2 separate regions of the Homo sapiens genome follow, and region 1 is linked to region 2. The links come from fine-mapping of genetic effects on gene expression. A gene starts in region 2. The other region holds a variant in brackets. All regions are shown on one strand. Distances are from middle to middle. Region 1 overlaps LOC107986930 (a long non-coding RNA gene). Region 2 holds the start of STC1 (stanniocalcin 1).

What was found. PIP is the estimated chance that this variant, and not a neighbour inherited with it, causes the effect.
Region 1: its variant is the best candidate, but not a certain one, in a credible set for the expression of STC1 in breast (GTEx, PIP 0.54).

The regions. Positions count from the first base shown.
Region 1 is chr8:23,796,958-23,805,294 of GRCh38, reverse strand. LOC107986930 (a long non-coding RNA gene) reads right to left here. Exons shown (of 5, transcript XR_001745842.2): 5 at 2,353-8,337. Among named protein-coding and RNA genes, the nearest start is that of STC1, 54 kb to the left of the region's middle. RefSeq lists an enhancer at 5,984-7,183. The variant C/T (reference allele first, on the strand shown) is at 3,297.
Region 2 is chr8:23,850,448-23,858,784 of GRCh38, reverse strand. STC1 (stanniocalcin 1) reads left to right here and starts at 3,979. Exons shown (of 4, transcript NM_003155.3): 1 at 3,979-4,379; 2 at 6,401-6,543; 3 at 7,254-7,465. The coding sequence starts at 4,262.

The DNA.
Region 1 (8,337 bases), 53 kb after region 2:
TTTATAAAAATAAATTTATTCCCAATTCAATGTCCATCTACTTGCCAATGAAGAATTAGTATCACATTTCACAATGTTACATCTGGATCCACACATATACAAATCGAAGAGCATTTTTGTTTAAAATTGAAAATGTTCTTCAGCTGTTAGAAGCAACTGTAGCAAATATTATGTCAATCCGTGAATAACTCTGAAACCACAATTAAAACCTGAAGAGAAACCAGAAATGGATACCAGGTGCTACTGGAAAATTATACTTCATTATGCAAGAATCTATTGCATTCATGCTATCTGAGAAAATGATTTAACAAATTAATTTCAAATGTTTTACATTTACATAAGTGCTGCCACCTCTTACATCCTCACCACTCATCTAACCAGTGTCCTCTCATGTCTTTAGTGACACCACCCACAAACCTTCTCAGCATTTAAAAACAATTCTTTTCAGTTTTGAGACAAGACATAAGGCAAGAGTGGTGAAGAATTATTTCCCTGGAGTGATGAGAACTAATGTTTAAATTATATCTCACGCCCAGCACTGAGCACTAACTATCAAAGGACAGAGGCACTCATGTGCTGTTTAACAATATTTTTATGTATTTTTATTTTTTATTTTTATTTTTTTGAGACAGCGTCATGCTCTGTTGCCCAGGTTGGAGTGCCGTGGTACGATCTCAGCTCACTGCAACCTCTGTCTCCCAGGTCAAATCCATTCTCCTGCCTCAGCCTCCTGAGTAGCTGGGATTACAGGTGTGAGCCACCACATCTGGCTACTTATTGTATTTTTAGTAGAGATGGGTTTTCGCCATATTGGCCAGGCTGGTCTTGAACTCCTGACCTCAGGTGATCCACCCACCTCAGCCTCCCAAAGTGCTGGGATTACAGGCATGAGCCACAGTGCCAGGCCAACAATTTTTGGTTTGTGTGCCGTGTCCAGGACTAATAGCAATAGTTTAGGTCTGATAGCCTCCAAAAATTAAGAAATGAAAGAAGTCCATGAAAAAGAACACGATAGGACACTAAAGGGAAACATTCAGAATGTCAGAAAGAGTTCTTAATACAAAATGGTGACTATAGTTGATAACAATGTATTGTATTCTTGAAAATTGCTAAGAGAATAGATTTCAAGTGTTCTCACCAAAAAGTTATGTATATATATGAAGTAATTCATATGTTAGCTCAATGTAACCATTCCACAATGTATATATATTTTAAAACAGGTTGTACACAACTTATATGATTTTTATCAATTTAAAAAATAAACTATAAACAATATTTTGTTACCAAAAAAAAGAGTTCTTGAAAATTAAAAATACAACAGCAAAAATTTAAATCCAACAAAAGTGTTTGAAAATAATGTTGAGGAAATATCCCAGGAAGTAGAAAAAAGAGAGAAAGAAAGTTTGTGAGGTAAGTAAGGAAACTAGAGGATCAATCCAGGATATATAGCAGCCAACTAATAGGAGTTCTAGAAAAGAAAAAGAGGGAAAATAAAGAGTAACAATGCTATTATAATTTCAGTACTACCTTCAAAGAACTGAAAAATATGAGTTTCCAGATTGGACGAGCTCACTGAAAAAACAGTGCAATCGATGAAAAAATATTCTGTATAATGGTCCATCGTGTGGCATTTGTAAATACCAGGGGCAAAGATGAAAGCCTAAAATTATGTGAATGGTGGAAAAAAGAAAGTGTTCATTTACAAAAGATATATCACTGTCATTAAAACTCCTATTAGCAAAACTGGTAGAAAACAATGTAGCAATATCATCAAAATGTGAGAGGATATTGATGCCAATCTAGAATTCCGTACCCAGCCAAACTATCAGTCAAGTACATGGGTGAAATAAGGACATTTCAGAGTTTCAATATGCCCCCAAAATTGTCTTCCCAGCTACGTTTTCCAGGAAGCTACTTGTTGACCCATTCATTCCTCCTCAGTGAAAAGTTAAGCCGGAAGAAGAAGGACAGGGAAACCAGGTAACAAGGCTCCTACACAGAAAGGTAAAGGCATTCACAGGATGAGAGTGAAGAGAAGTCCCAGGATAGCAGCTCTAGTTAGACACATCTAGAAGTCTCTCTAGATTTCTTTTTAGAGAGAAATCAGCTTGACTAGAACAGATGCAGGAGGCTTCTGGACTAGGTAGTCATGAAGAAAATAAAAGTAATAGAATACCTGACAGGTTGCAAACATACTCAGACAAGATTTTCTGGTCTATTCCAGGGGAAAGTTTGAGAGATTTCACAACGGATGCAAAGAAAATTTTGCAAATAAAGAAGTGGCAATAATTAATTCCAAGAAAAATATCAAAAGTTATTTTTCAAAAAGAAAAAATGTTGTCCTAGCATACTTTGTAAGTTCAACTGTGAATATTAATTACATAGTAATAATATAAACATTGAGAAATGACTTAACCAAAAATTTTGAAAAAAAAAAACATACTGGAAGAATGCGAGAACAGTCAGAAGAATAACATGAGTGTGTGTGTAGAGGCACTATATCACTGAAAAAATAAGAAATGGTAGTATAATAATGGTCTATGGGGGAAAAAACAAGAGAGTTAAAAATATTACCATGGGAATTGGGAATGAAAGGAAATTTGGCACAGAACTACTGTTTCTTAGTTACCTACCTAGTATTATTTATTGACTTGTTAAACTATGTACCTGTTTTACTTTGATAAAATTCAATTTAAAAATCAGTTGCATGGGAGGGAGTATGGAATGAGACTGTTTGTGAGAAATCATGAAGCAATTCCAGAACAATGAGAGTGTGCATTGGCCAGGGACAAAGAGTAAAATTGTTTCTCTGCATTAAAAAGTTTATTTTAGAGTCAAGGTCGTGATTTTAAAGTGCAACTAGCCAGTGTAATTATATCTTTTCCTCCGACTGCATTTCTCCAAGCACAGATACAGGCGCCAAGCAAAAAGTTGGATTTAATCAAGGTTGCAGTTTGTCAAAGTGAATATATGAAGTGAGAAAATGGAAAGTGAGTCAAAGACATATGCAAGGGTTATAACAATTGAACATGGAATTTAAGATAGGTGAAGAAGGAATCAAGATAGCAAGGGAATCATGATAGCAAGGGGATGAAAGGCAGAGAAAATATGGTAGGACCAATGGATTGAAAGTCTGATGGAATAGAAAGGTCATTGGTGTTGGACTACTAGAGGGAGGGAGGTAGAAGAGTAGAGGCGTTGGTCAAAGAAAGGGAGGCATGAGATGGAGATTAAGGAGATGTAATTATTGGTGATGACAAAGTTGCAAATGTAACTAGGGGTGGAGGACAAAGAAA[C/T]AAGAAGAGCTTAAGAAAGTGAGGAGACAGGACTTACTTTGGGTAACATGACAACAAGCAATAAGGAAGCTGTTGGGGGGGCAATTATCGACATCCATAATGTAGAATGCCATTTTCACATTTCATATCTATGACTTTTATCTTCCTGAGTTTATAAATTCAGGATGGGAATAGCTGTTTTACCACATCTGTAGTAAATCCTGTACACATCTGAGGGGTAGGGGTGAGATATACTTACAAATCCTTGCAGAGGATGACTTCAGTTCAGAGGTTCTTTGGTGGTTCTTAATGACCTACATAATAAGGTACTGAACAGCTGTCTTTCATTTCAGAGGACATTTATGAAGTTCTACTCTATGTCTACTCCATCCTTTACCCAAAATGGCTCAAGCCCACCTATGCAGACTCACTGTGAATACATGAAAGCCACATGCCACATCCTGTCTTCATTATTCACTCAGACTCACCCTGGTTCCTTCACTCCTCTTCCTTGGGTCACCAATCTTTTGATTCTATCCTTGTTGCCCTAATTATTATTTCAAGCTTCCCATTCTAGGTCAGCATCTTGTAATTCTTCAGTGTATTTCAGCCAATTGTCTTGTTTTTGAACATGCACTGGGGCCAACCCGTATTTGGGATCATCCTCCATTTCAAATAATACATTCTCTCTGTTCATCCGAGTTCTTTGTGAGGGCCAGGCCACTCTGCACATGGGCCATAGTGAGGGTGAGTGTGCACCCTGTTCCAGACACTTGTTTCCTCTTTGAATTCTCACCAAACAAGGCAGAAGTATCAGCAAAAATAAACCAAAAAATAGTATATGCAGTTTCACTGCACCTCTTCTTCTGGGGCTGAAGATAAATAATCCAAAGTTCTTGTCCCCCAGGATATGTATTCATGCTTCATGTCTTTGGCTCCAAATACGGTCCATTGTTTTTCATCAAACAACGCATACTACATATCTAGTATGTGCCTGGAACCAGGCTCTAGAGGGGTAGACTTACAAAAATGAACAGGCTTCCATTTAGCTTTCCATCAATCCTTTGGACACTTAAAGACTATACACGAGTTTTAGTACAACTTTCCCTTGCTTTGGGAATTGGAGGCTTTGTCTACTAAAACAAGGAATAGTTTTTTGCTCCATATCCTGATTTGATTGAAGTTATGAAAAATCCAATCCTATCAAAACTTTACTGCCAATTATCTCAACATCCTGCTACAATTTTATAATTATCCAAGGAATTTATACAGCCAAAAAATAAAGTTTGAGGAATTATTTTTATACCGAATTTACAATTTTGCTAATGGTTGTTCCAAGGGTATTTTAAATTATTTTTCCCAAAGAATCTGCATTTAACTAATTAATATGCTCTTTTAAAATAGTTCCTTGATTTTTAACTTTTTACATGTTTATATTATTTTCCTAGCTAGGGCTCATGCCTGTAATCCCAGTATTTTGGAAAGCCAAGGTGGGAGGATCACTTGAGCCCAGGAGATCAAGACCAGCTTGAGCAATATAGGAAGACTCCATCTCTACAGAAATAAAAAATAAAATTCAAATTTAAGAAATCAGCATCTTATATTTTCCTCATTTTGGACACAGCTCCAAACATCTTGCTGGTTATATAGTATGCCCTTAATACACGGGTGGGAGTTTTGTTTGCTTGGCTGGTTTTTGTACTGGTTTTGTAGCAATACACTCAAGAAAGGTATAAAGAACATATTTTTTTAAGCTTTATGCAATCTCAATGTTAGTGCCTCCATTTAAAAATCAGTCTTGGCTGAGCAAGGTTGCTTATGCCTATAATCCCAGCATTTTGGGAGGCTGAAGTGGGAGGATCACTTGAGCCCAGGAGTTTGAGACTAGCTTGGGCAATAAAGGGAAAACCCATCTCTAGAAAAATATAAATAATTTTTTAAATATAACTGTCTCTAATAACCACACTATAGTTATGTAAGAAAGTATCCTTAGAAAATACACATTGAAGTATTTAGGAGTTAAAAGGCACAATGTCTCCAATTTACTCTCGAAGGGAATGTATGTGTATATATAGAGAGAGACAGAACAAGAGACAGATAACAGAGCGAGAGACAAACAGAGAAATGGTGAGACAGAGAAATGGTGAAGTGAAAATTGGAGTAGCCAAAAACATAGAGACAGAAAGTAGAATGGTGGGTTGCCAGGGGCTGAGGCAAGGTGGAAACACAGTGTTATCACGTCATAGGTATAGAGTTGCAGCTTTGCAAAATGAAAAGAGTTATCAGATGGAGTGATGGATGGTGATGATGGCTGCATAACATTATGAATATAATTACTACTACTGAACTGCATACTTAAAAATGATTAAGATGTTAAATTTTATGTTATGTGTATTTTACCATAATTTTTAAGTTGGGGGAAAAGACAGCAAATGGGGGAAATTGTCAACAGGTGATGAATCTGATAAAGAAGGGTACATAAAAGTTCTCTGGACTATCGTTGAAAATTTGCTGGAATTTTAAAATTACAGAAAAATAACAAGTGACCCAAATAAGTCAATATCTAGAAAAAAGTATACCCTAGAGTGAAAAATTCTATCTTCCATGCACTAGAAAGCAGGAGGAAAAAGAGGTTTTGAGTGCTGAGTTTCAGATGATGGATGAGGTGATGAACTATCAATTGTTTCAGTAGAGAGAGAGCCCTGATGTTAAATGAATTTTCACTTTTGCTAGGCTTGGTTTGGCTCTTAGACAACTCAGCCGTCAGACTTTAAGGAGCTTTGGGAAAATCCCAGCACACATGTTTGAGCACCGTCTAGGACTGCTTCTGAAAGCCCTGCCCTGAGACAGGTCCACCCTTGAGACACTGTCCAATGAGAAAGGAAGTCAGTGGAACAATGAGTTATAATTACAAGGGAGATGAGATGGCTGAGAGGCTGGGAAACAGCTGACATCTCTCTGCTTCTGAAAGCAATTCAAGGTGAGCTCCTAATGCTACACTGGCTCCTGAAACCACAAACTATGCCTTCTCTCCCCCAGTAAGTCATCACCAAATGCCAAAATGCATGGACTCGTGTGCTTCAGCTCCTGTATATTGTTAGGAATTTACAATTTAGAAGCCAGCATCTGGCACAGTCGGCAAAGTATTCTAATTTCCCAGCTCCCCCTTGCTGCAACCTGGTCCTCCCGAGTCCTTCTGCAGTGATCTGTGAAGCCCAGGATGGGCTTCCCATGTTCAGGTTTACTATAAACTGGCAAAGAATTAAGTCAAGAAGACTCAGGCAATGAAGAGATGCACGGGAATGCTGAGGCCTGACCACAATTGAAACTGTCTGAGTCAAAAGTCAAGAAGTCATTCACATGCCAAGGGCCATTTCCTCCACCTCGCCCCCACCCCGCTATGCTGGAAGTCAATTCTCCACAGTGCGTGGTGAGTCAGGCATGAGCACTTTGATTACGGCTCAGCTGATGTCATTCAAGAAAGCAGGGGGGGTCACCCACTGCATCAGAGGAACAGACATTTGACTGAGACAGATCCACCCTCGAGCCCTCTGGGGAGCCTGACATTTCCAGGACATGGAAAACAAACTTCCTCTCAGGAGGGAATATGCTTTCAGTGTGGGAAAAAAATAAAAAATTTTTAAAAAGAGAGAGGGAGAGAACTGGAGAGGGTCAATACATGCTCACCTCTGGCTGAAAGCCCACAATCAGGGAAATTACTGTCCTTTCCGAAAAGGTGAAAGCATCACAATGTCCTCTGGTTCACAGGCAGATCCAAGGAACTGCACGTACACAGAGAAAACCTCAGTCTTGACCCAACAGAGCCTACTGGGTCTAGCAACCATGTAACTCCCTTTCAATTCAGCTCATACATTTAAGTATTTATTGAGAGGCCACCTTGTATTTGGTGTCAAAGCTATTCTTTGTGGTGGGAAGTTGGAATTCAGATCCAACAGGGCCAACACATAAGCTTCTGTTGTTGCTGCTGTTGTAACTTACCTTGAGTTCTTATGTTCTGACACTCCCTTTGCATGGATTATCCTATTTAAATCTCAACAATTTTGCCAAGTAGATAGTATTATTTTCTCTATTTTATAAACTAGGGAACTGAGACACCAAAATACTAAGTAATTGATTGAAGATCGTGCAGAAAATGAGTGGAAGGGCAAGGGTTTGAGCCCAGCCTAGACCAGCAGTGTTCAATTGAACTTTCTGCAATGATTGCAATGTTCTATATCTGCCCTGTGCAATAAATAGGGTAGCTACTAGCCCTATGTGGTTAATGAGCCTTGAGATGTGATCGCTGCAACTGGAAAACTAGATTTTAAATTTTTATTCAATCTTATTTAACTTAAATTTAAGTTGTACTTGTTGCTAGTGGCTACCCCATTGGACAGGGCAGATTTAGACTGACTCCAAACCAAGGTACTTAACCATGTGCTAAATGGCAGATGACAGTAGGGAGAACCACACCCTCACCATCTTTTAGCTGATAGAAAACCAAATTACAATAGACATCCACGCCATTCTTGAAGAGGAAGAGAGTCGTCATGAGGCTGTAGGGAGTGGACGAGAGAAGGCCATGACCTGCAGTTGCCAGAAAAGGGAACATAGGCTGACTGGGGCTCTCCTCCAGGCACTGATGGCATATGTCTTTAGACATGCTGAAAGCATGTGGCTCACATCCCTAGCTATCTCCCTTTTCCCCCATCTACCCACAAAAGCCTCTATACAACTGTGACGCTGCTCCTGTAGTGCAGTCTGCAGGCCCTGAGTGCACGGAACCCCAGGGCATTCCACCCTCTTATGGGCACTGTGCCCAACACCAAGGAGGATGCACGGGAAAGATGTGTCCCTGGCCACCTGCTTGGGAGGAAGTAGCTCACATCCCAGAAGACCAAGACTTACCAGCCTGAACTCACTGAGTCACAACAAGAGTCAGTGTGTGAGTCAGTATAGGATGGGTTTCAAGGGAGAGACAAAAAAAGGATAACAAATTTGGGCTGGATGAATAGGTAGGGACAGTGTCGTACAGGAAGAAAGATTTGAGCTGGGCTGCAAA
Region 2 (8,337 bases):
AGGTCAACCATCTCTGCATTTCCCACAACACCTGACCTAGAACCAGGCACACAGTCACCTTCCATCAACAAAGGAGAGAAGTGGGGAGTTTGCCCTCTTAATATATTTTCTCACCTTCTTTCTTTAGTAGAGTTTACAGCAATCAAAGACTTGCAAATGGCACAGATTTTCTCATGAATTGAGGACTGTCCACACAGATAATCTGGTGCCTTTATAGAAGAGTAAATAAAAATGTTTTCCCCTCATCTTCCTCATTTTCCTTCTTCTTCTTCTTTGTCTTGAGGTTAGGAAGGCATGAATCAACAGCCCAAAGTCCAATCAAAAAAAACACAGGCTCAGAATTCCCAAAGAAAAATGGTCCAACTTTGGTCACTATGCCAAAACAACCTTGGTGGGTCTTGCATTCTGTTAGCCAAACACGTGCGCACACACACACACACACACACACACACACGAACATTTACCAAGAAAACATGCTCTGTTCTTGGGCTCCTCTCACCAAAAGGCAAAGAGCTGTTCACTGCTTAGCTTTAAGCTAGCCAAATCCAACAAAGCCCCAGAGACTTTTGGCTTAATCTTCTCACTGAACTCATGCCAGCCTTGCACGGGCACAGCCAGGGCATCATCACCCAGTCTTAGGTGTTGGCAGCTTCTCCCACCAACTTCTTAGCACTTTCCCTGCTCAGGGCAATGGCAAAGTATACCCTCCCCTCCCACCCACTGCACTTGGGCGCACTTGGGCGCACATTGCAGTCAAGTCCTTTTTTTAGGTAATTCTGCTGCTCAACAGTATGCCAGAAAGCACCTGCCTAACAGAGACACTAGATAGTCCTGTCAACTAAAAGTCATAACTAAAATATAAGGAGGGAAAAGTCCTCATGTGTATTATCTCCATTACCACTAAACTGGGAGAAAGGTTTTTCCCAAGACAATCCTTAGGTTAATTAATAATTTCCAGTTCATTTAAAACATCTCTCATATTTGTCTCCCTTCCTTTCCTGCCACAACCATTGTAGGCCAGAATCTCATCAACAAAATTCTGTTATTAACAAGTCTTAAAACTTCTGTTCTTTTCTTCCTCCAAACCATCATAAGTATGATGAAATAATCTTGCCTAAACACTTATTTCCACCCATCATTTAACAATTCCTACTCAAGAGCCCGAATAACTTCCTGTTCCTTACAGGATAAAACTCAGACTGTGAAGAGCGCTAAGCAAACTCCTCCATATTCTCTCAGACCCCCAAGAGAAGTTACAAAGAAACCAGACATCACCACCAGGGCCCCCAAGACCCTTTTATCTTGCTATATCACAGTTCCAGACAGTTGCACAATGATTGAGGGCACTTGGATATCCACATACCATGACATTCTAGGCAGAAATTTTACACTGGGCATTTCATGTAGACTTCAGCTCCTTCCCCTAAGGTTCTCAAATGCATTGGCATGCATACTAGTTACATTCAAATCAATGGGCTGACCACTATTGTATTTCTTCAAAGGACAGTTTACCTGTTATTGGGAAACACTTGGCACACCTAGCAATGAACTTCCAGGCACAAGATAGTAAGTGAGCAAAATAAGAAGGAATAATAAATCAACATCAGAAAAAAAAAACACAAACACATCTTGATGCTTGTAGGACATCGTGTTCTGGTGAGAGCAACGGAGAGTTGGAAAAACAAAGTAGATGGCTGGTGGTAAATCATCACCCTACCAAGCCAAGCAGACCAACTCAGGGAAAGCCCAAGAGAAACAAATGGCACTGCCTTAGATGATGAATAATGGCCAAGGAGGTAGAGAATGCTAAAGAACAGAAGTCAAGACCCTTGGGAGGAATACGCATCTGTCCTCTTACTCCCTTTCTGGAAGAGAGCACTGAGAAATTCTATTGCCTTGCCTGGCATCTACTACTTCTAACTAAAGCAATACAAATAACCTTGAAGCTTTCCACAATACAAGCTTTGTTTTTTAAAAATGAAATAGCATAGCTTTTCCTAAATTCTTAAAAAGCAACAACAGCAGTTTACATCTTTCCCCACTGATCTTTCCCTCAAGAGCTTTCCCCCCATCTCCAGCCAGTGCTGCCTGAGCCTGTGTCTTACTATATGAGGTCCTGACATCCCGAACCTTTAGGAAGTATGACTGTGGCTGGTCATCTTCCCAACTCACCTGTAAGTACCTTCAGGACAAGAATAATGAACTTACCTTCTTCTCTATGTCTTCTCATTTATCCTCCCACATTGTCCCCTAGCACTCAGCCCAGAAGGTTCTAAAGAAATACCAATACTGCCTGTTAATATAAATTAAAATGTATTCTTGTTATATAATGTAAATCTGAAAATTCCCTTCCTTTCTTTTAGATATTTCCTGTATCCTTTATTCCTTCTATTCCTTTTTCTAGCAAACTTTCATACTTACCAAACAACCCTATTTTGTGAGGGATAGGCTATCATCACCCAGAACCGTCCGCCGCCCCCCCCCCCCCGCCCCCCACCACCCTATCACCCCACAACATACACAGAGCTGACACTTGGTTTAGTTTGTGGTTAACAGGGGTGGCACTCTTTCTTCAACTTTTGTTTGAAGGTTTTAGGATGCAAAGTAAAGCCACTGGCCCCATTTCTCTGCAAGATTATCCTGCCCAAATCTGTATGAATCACCAGTGGCCATTTCTCATCTACTTCCCCAAAATTATTAAAGGTTTTATTGTATAATACCTTCACCACCTTCCTACCCTAAGAAGTCCTCTTCTGGCTCATTAACCTCCTTCACATGTTGGGGACAAACCTCAGCATTGCCTACAACTCACTTATAAGAAAATATAAGTTTCTATACCAGGCATGATTTGTGATTGCAGTGCAATTTTCCTATTAAGTCTAGAGCTTATCATTCTTCTCTCCTACACATTCTGGTCTTTCTCTACCCCTTCTTTCCATTCTGCCCCCTTTTTTCCTACCCCTCTCCCCAAGAAATGAACTGGTTTCCATTCAGCAGGTTTAGTCTTGCTTTGGCCAGCTTATTGTTTCAAAGTGGTTATAAAGTTGCTGGGCTTGAACACAGATTATTAATTTTCAGGCATTCATGATGTCTCCCTGTTGAGTGTGGTATGTGCAGGTGTGCACATGTGTACCTGGGGTAACTAACACTCCTGGACTATGCAATTTTGCTGGTGACTGAAAAGATGAAGTCAAAGTTGATTTGATTATTGAAGAATCACATTATTTTAGAGGTATACAGAATGTCAGAGTCCAACTTTGGCGTTTTACAGATGGGAAAACGAGGTGGGGCAAGGTAAAAAGACTTAGCCAGAGTCATAGGTTGATCAGTAGGGGGACTAAGGCTTCAGCTCTGAGCTGTCATATCTCAGTCCCCCAAGGCTTTTCCACTCACATAAATTCCCCCTCAAGGGCTCAAATGTGTGAGTGAGAACCCAGGATGTCCACATACAAACAAAAATGCATCATAGACATGTGAACATGTACACACAGAGAAGATAGGGAGTTATTGCATTTGTAGCCTACAAAACAGAACCGAGAATGTGCTGTTAAAATTAGAGTAAAACTGCTGTAAGCAGGTTAAGTTCTCATCTAAAGAGATCACATTTCCCCACCATACCCCTGCTATCCATTTCCCCCAAGTGGCTCATTAGAAAAAAAGATGGCTAGATTTCAAAAAGCAACTTGGAGAGATTTCTATAGGATTTTTCTTTAGTTCAATCAATACAGAGTTATCTCTTACTTCCACGAAAATAGCTTTTTCACACATCTCTGCACACACAGTCACACACACATATAAAACATTGGCAGCAGGTACTTTTAATTTGCTGGAAAATATTTCTAAGAAGTCAAAAAGCTCCAGCTGAATTGCATGCCCTCTTATTGGCTCACCAGACCAGTTGAGGGACCTGATTGGTCCTTGATCCTGAGGACCGATAAGAACGGCTATAAAATCCCTGGGTGCAGCTCTTGGGCCCCCAGTTTGCAAAAGCCAGAGGTGCAAGAAGCAGCGACTGCAGCAGCAGCAGCAGCAGCGGCGGTGGCAGCAGCAGCAGCAGCGGCGGCAGCAGCAGCAGCAGCGGAGGCACCGGTGGCAGCAGCAGCATCACCAGCAACAACAACAAAAAAAAATCCTCATCAAATCCTCACCTAAGCTTTCAGTGTATCCAGATCCACATCTTCACTCAAGCCAGGAGAGGGAAAGAGGAAAGGGGGGCAGGAAAAAAAAAAAACCCAACAACTTAGCGGAAACTTCTCAGAGAATGCTCCAAAACTCAGCAGTGCTTCTGGTGCTGGTGATCAGTGCTTCTGCAACCCATGAGGCGGAGCAGAATGACTCTGTGAGCCCCAGGAAATCCCGAGTGGCGGCTCAAAACTCAGGTAAGCAGCAAACCCAAGAGCGGTTTCTCCCCCAAAGAGCTGTCCTCATTTGCCTCTCCCTTTTGCAACTGTGTCTGTGACGGCTGATCTTGATAATAAATGTGCTTCATGCCTGATGGCAATAAACTGCCAGTGTAATCCAATAGCCTTAGGCAGTGGAGCTCCTTTGTTTAATAAATTGCATGCAACTAAACGAAGAAGCTGGACGCTCTGCTGAGGGTATTTCATTGCATAAGCCTAGCCTGATTGCCTGAAATCTGGCACGTACCCTCTTGGAGGGGGAGGGGTGAGAGGGGAGGAAAGGCTTGAATGTTGGCATGCTTCAAAGCGCTCTCTATACTTTCCAGAAGCTGATCTAAGGTAAGACCTGGCTTGTTTGATGCTGTCCCTCTTCCTTTCCTCTTAAGACTCTACCTCTTCACTTCTTGACTTCTCTACCTAAGAGAATACACAGAAAAGCTCCCTCTTCAGACTGATTTTCAGAACCATAGCCCTCAAGTCTGACAAATCCAGGGCGGATTCAGAGAAAACCCTATACATCCCACCCCCAACCCTGCTGCCTGTCTCCCTCCTGGCTCTGTAGGGCTCCATTCAGTCGTCCCTGCAGCCCGTAGCCAGAGAGCCCCTAGAAAAAAAAAATTGTGAAACGTAGCAGCTGTTTCTCCAAGGGTAAGGTCTCACTTTCGTCTTGACTCTTGGAGCAGTTAATTGTGCATTATCTTGGCTTCTGAAGGAAAAGAATCATTAGGAAGCCTGCATTGACACCTCTGCCTCTTGACTTCTCTGGCTCCACTTGTTCCCCTTCCAATACTGCCCTCTGTCCTCCAACTGTCAGCAAAGACCGGATCACAGGTGTCAAAATGCTGCAGATGATGATCCCCTTGGAAGAGCACAGGTCCCTGCCGAGAGGAGGGCTTTTGCTTCACTTCCTTTTGTACTTAGTTGCTATAGAGATGCAGTGATTCACAATTCGAGCTTGCCTAAAACAATAGCAGCCCTAATGCATATTAAAACTGCTTAAAGCAAAGTTATAATTTAAACCCGTGGAAATATATAATTAGGGAAATGACTTGTAACATCCTAGAGGCTGCGGGTGGTGGGAGGGGGTGGGGAAGACTAACTGAACCATGCTTTTGATCTCAGAGGAGAATCCTATGGCATGAAGGCTGCAGATCATTCCTTGCCTAGCTGCCTGCCAGAACACCCCCCTTCTGTGGGAGAAAAATTACTTTTATGGGAGATCTTATCCAGAATGTAGAAAGCCTCATGCAAGTTTTTTGCGGTTTTCTTCCAGTCTTGCATAGGGAGGCCTTGGCCTGGTTATTCCACACCTGTGTTTCTTCTTTCTTTCTTTCTTTCTTTCTTTCTTTTTTAAAAGGCTTTTAATATGAAAGAGATTATGCATACCTCTAAGCACTGTCCTAGTGGAGGGTTGGGGTGAAACATGAACGGATCAGATTTCTTTTTGCCAATATGACGGTAAGTTAAAAGCCTGAAATCAGAAGGGTCTCCAAGTGGACTCCTGGCACAGTCTTCTCTGCCATTTAGACTAAAATCCCATGCTTTTTACTCGGGAGTGCATTTTTCCAAAGCTAGATGGATTCCCTGGCCCTTTTACCTCTTAAACCTGACCACTAGCCACTGTCTCCTTCCTTCCCATGCTTTCAAGTGCTAAGCAATGACCTTTGATTCTATGGAATGGCTTAAAGGCACTGTGCATTTCCAGACTTGAGCCTCACTTCTCCAGACACCAAAATTGTAGGTAATGGTGAAACAGGGAGCGTGTGTCTGAAACAGAGAACTCCCTCCCTGTCCATCATGTACTCCAGCAATCATAAACAAAAGGAGCCTGTCTATCCTCTCTTTCTCAATCAAATGGGTCTATCAATTGCCCCTCATGACAGATTCCTAGGATAAGTTCTTCTGACCTCATGTCCTTGAAATTCACCTCTGCACCCACTTGATCCCACCCAGCCATTCCTCACTGTTTGACCCAGAATGGATGGATTTGTCTCTTTCAGCTGAAGTGGTTCGTTGCCTCAACAGTGCTCTACAGGTCGGCTGCGGGGCTTTTGCATGCCTGGAAAACTCCACCTGTGACACAGATGGGATGTATGACATCTGTAAATCCTTCTTGTACAGCGCTGCTAAATTTGACACTCAGGTAATAAAACCTTGACCCCTGCTCCCACTGGCTGCTTGTCTTTAACAGTGTGTTAGACCATGGTTCTTAGGAACCAGTCTTGTAGGGAACCAGCCCTGCTTCTCAGCTTCCCCACTCTAAATTCCCATCTCAGCATGTGTATGCACAAGTGTGTGCATGCACACACACACACACACACACACACAGAGGCACTCATCTGGCCAGGAAATAGGTTCTGTATAAGACACGCCCCACTCACTCTAATGCATGATTCTAAGGAGCTAGTAGAGGCTGTCTTATAAGGCCAGGGGTAATAAGCCAAAAAGATTTTCCTCTGTAAGAGGACATAAAAACGTGCATAGAGCAAGGAAGTTCTCTCTGCATGACCTAGCATACTAGCTTTTGATCTGAATTCTCAAAGTCTCAATCTCAAGAATATGAAGTCAGATTACGACTATTTTTAAGCTGCAGAATGGTTGATCACGGTTCATCTTTTTTTTCTGTAATTTCATTTCGGTAGAGCTTAATTCTCAAGGGAATCCAGGGAGATGGGGAGAGGGCTTTTTTTTTTTTCAATCCTTAGCCGAGACATGCAATCTTCTCATTGCAAGGATATGCAGATGGCCATGATACGTTGCCCAGATGAGCCCCCTTAAATTCCTCCATGTATATGCCCATCCTCTTTGTCAGGTCAAGCTAAAGACCTCCCTCTTGTCCTTCCTCCATGGCAGGGAAAAGCATTCGTCAAAGAGAGCTTAAAATGCATCGCCAACGGGGTCACCTCCAAGGTCTTCCTCGCCATTCGGAGGTGCTCCACTTTCCAAAGGATGATTGCTGAGGTGCAGGAAGAGTGCTACAGCAAGCTGAATGTGTGCAGCATCGCCAAGCGGAACCCTGAAGCCATCACTGAGGTCGTCCAGCTGCCCAATCACTTCTCCAACAGGTACAAACTGAGTCTACTTTTTCACAATCAGGGGACTGGGAGCAGGTGGCTGGCTGGCAGAGCCAGACTGGGAGGGAGGGTTAAATTGCCACAGTCATGCTCTTATTTTAGCTTGCAGTCTTCCCAGCTTTTGCAGGAAAAAAATATGTTTGTGATTGGTTGTGACAGTTTAAGCAGCTTGGGCTTTTTTTTCCCTACTGTTATAGGAAAAGTCTTTTCATGCAGCTCATAGAAAGCCAGCCTCATCTGCAGCATCCCTGGGTGCTTTCATTGACCATTTTTTGCCATAAGCCTGAAGGGAATGGTGAAGTTTCTGGAAACAAGCTTTTAAGACATCAGATTTGGCTGAAACCATGACCGTGCAACAACACAATTGGCCATGATTAAAAAAAAAAAAAAAAAAAAAAGCCCTCTGGTTAAATGTCATAATGCAGATTTTAAGTCTCCATCTATTTCAAATCAGTCCCAAACACAGTCAGAGATTTCACTGGGTAGCCCAGAGCAAGCCATCTCACTTCCCTGGGGCTCAGATTTCCTTTGTAAAAAGCAAAATGGCTGGACTGGACCATTTTCAGGTTTCCTTCCAGGCCTTATGTTATCCCATTCCTCTAGCCCAAGATTTCCTAGAATGAGTGTGTTTTATGGCTGTCCAGATCCCATTCTCATCTTAGTATTCAAACACCACCCAAGGCCACTGAGCTAGTACAGTAACATCTGGGCATTGTACTTTTCAGTGTTTTTACCAGCCAGGAGTGAATTCCTGTTACATGAGACAGCTGGCATCCTCAGTTCATGTGCGTGGCCTGGAAAGGTTCCCAGCAAGAACTAAGAGATGCCAATGGGGTTGGCGTGGAGGTCTGGCAGGGGCAGTG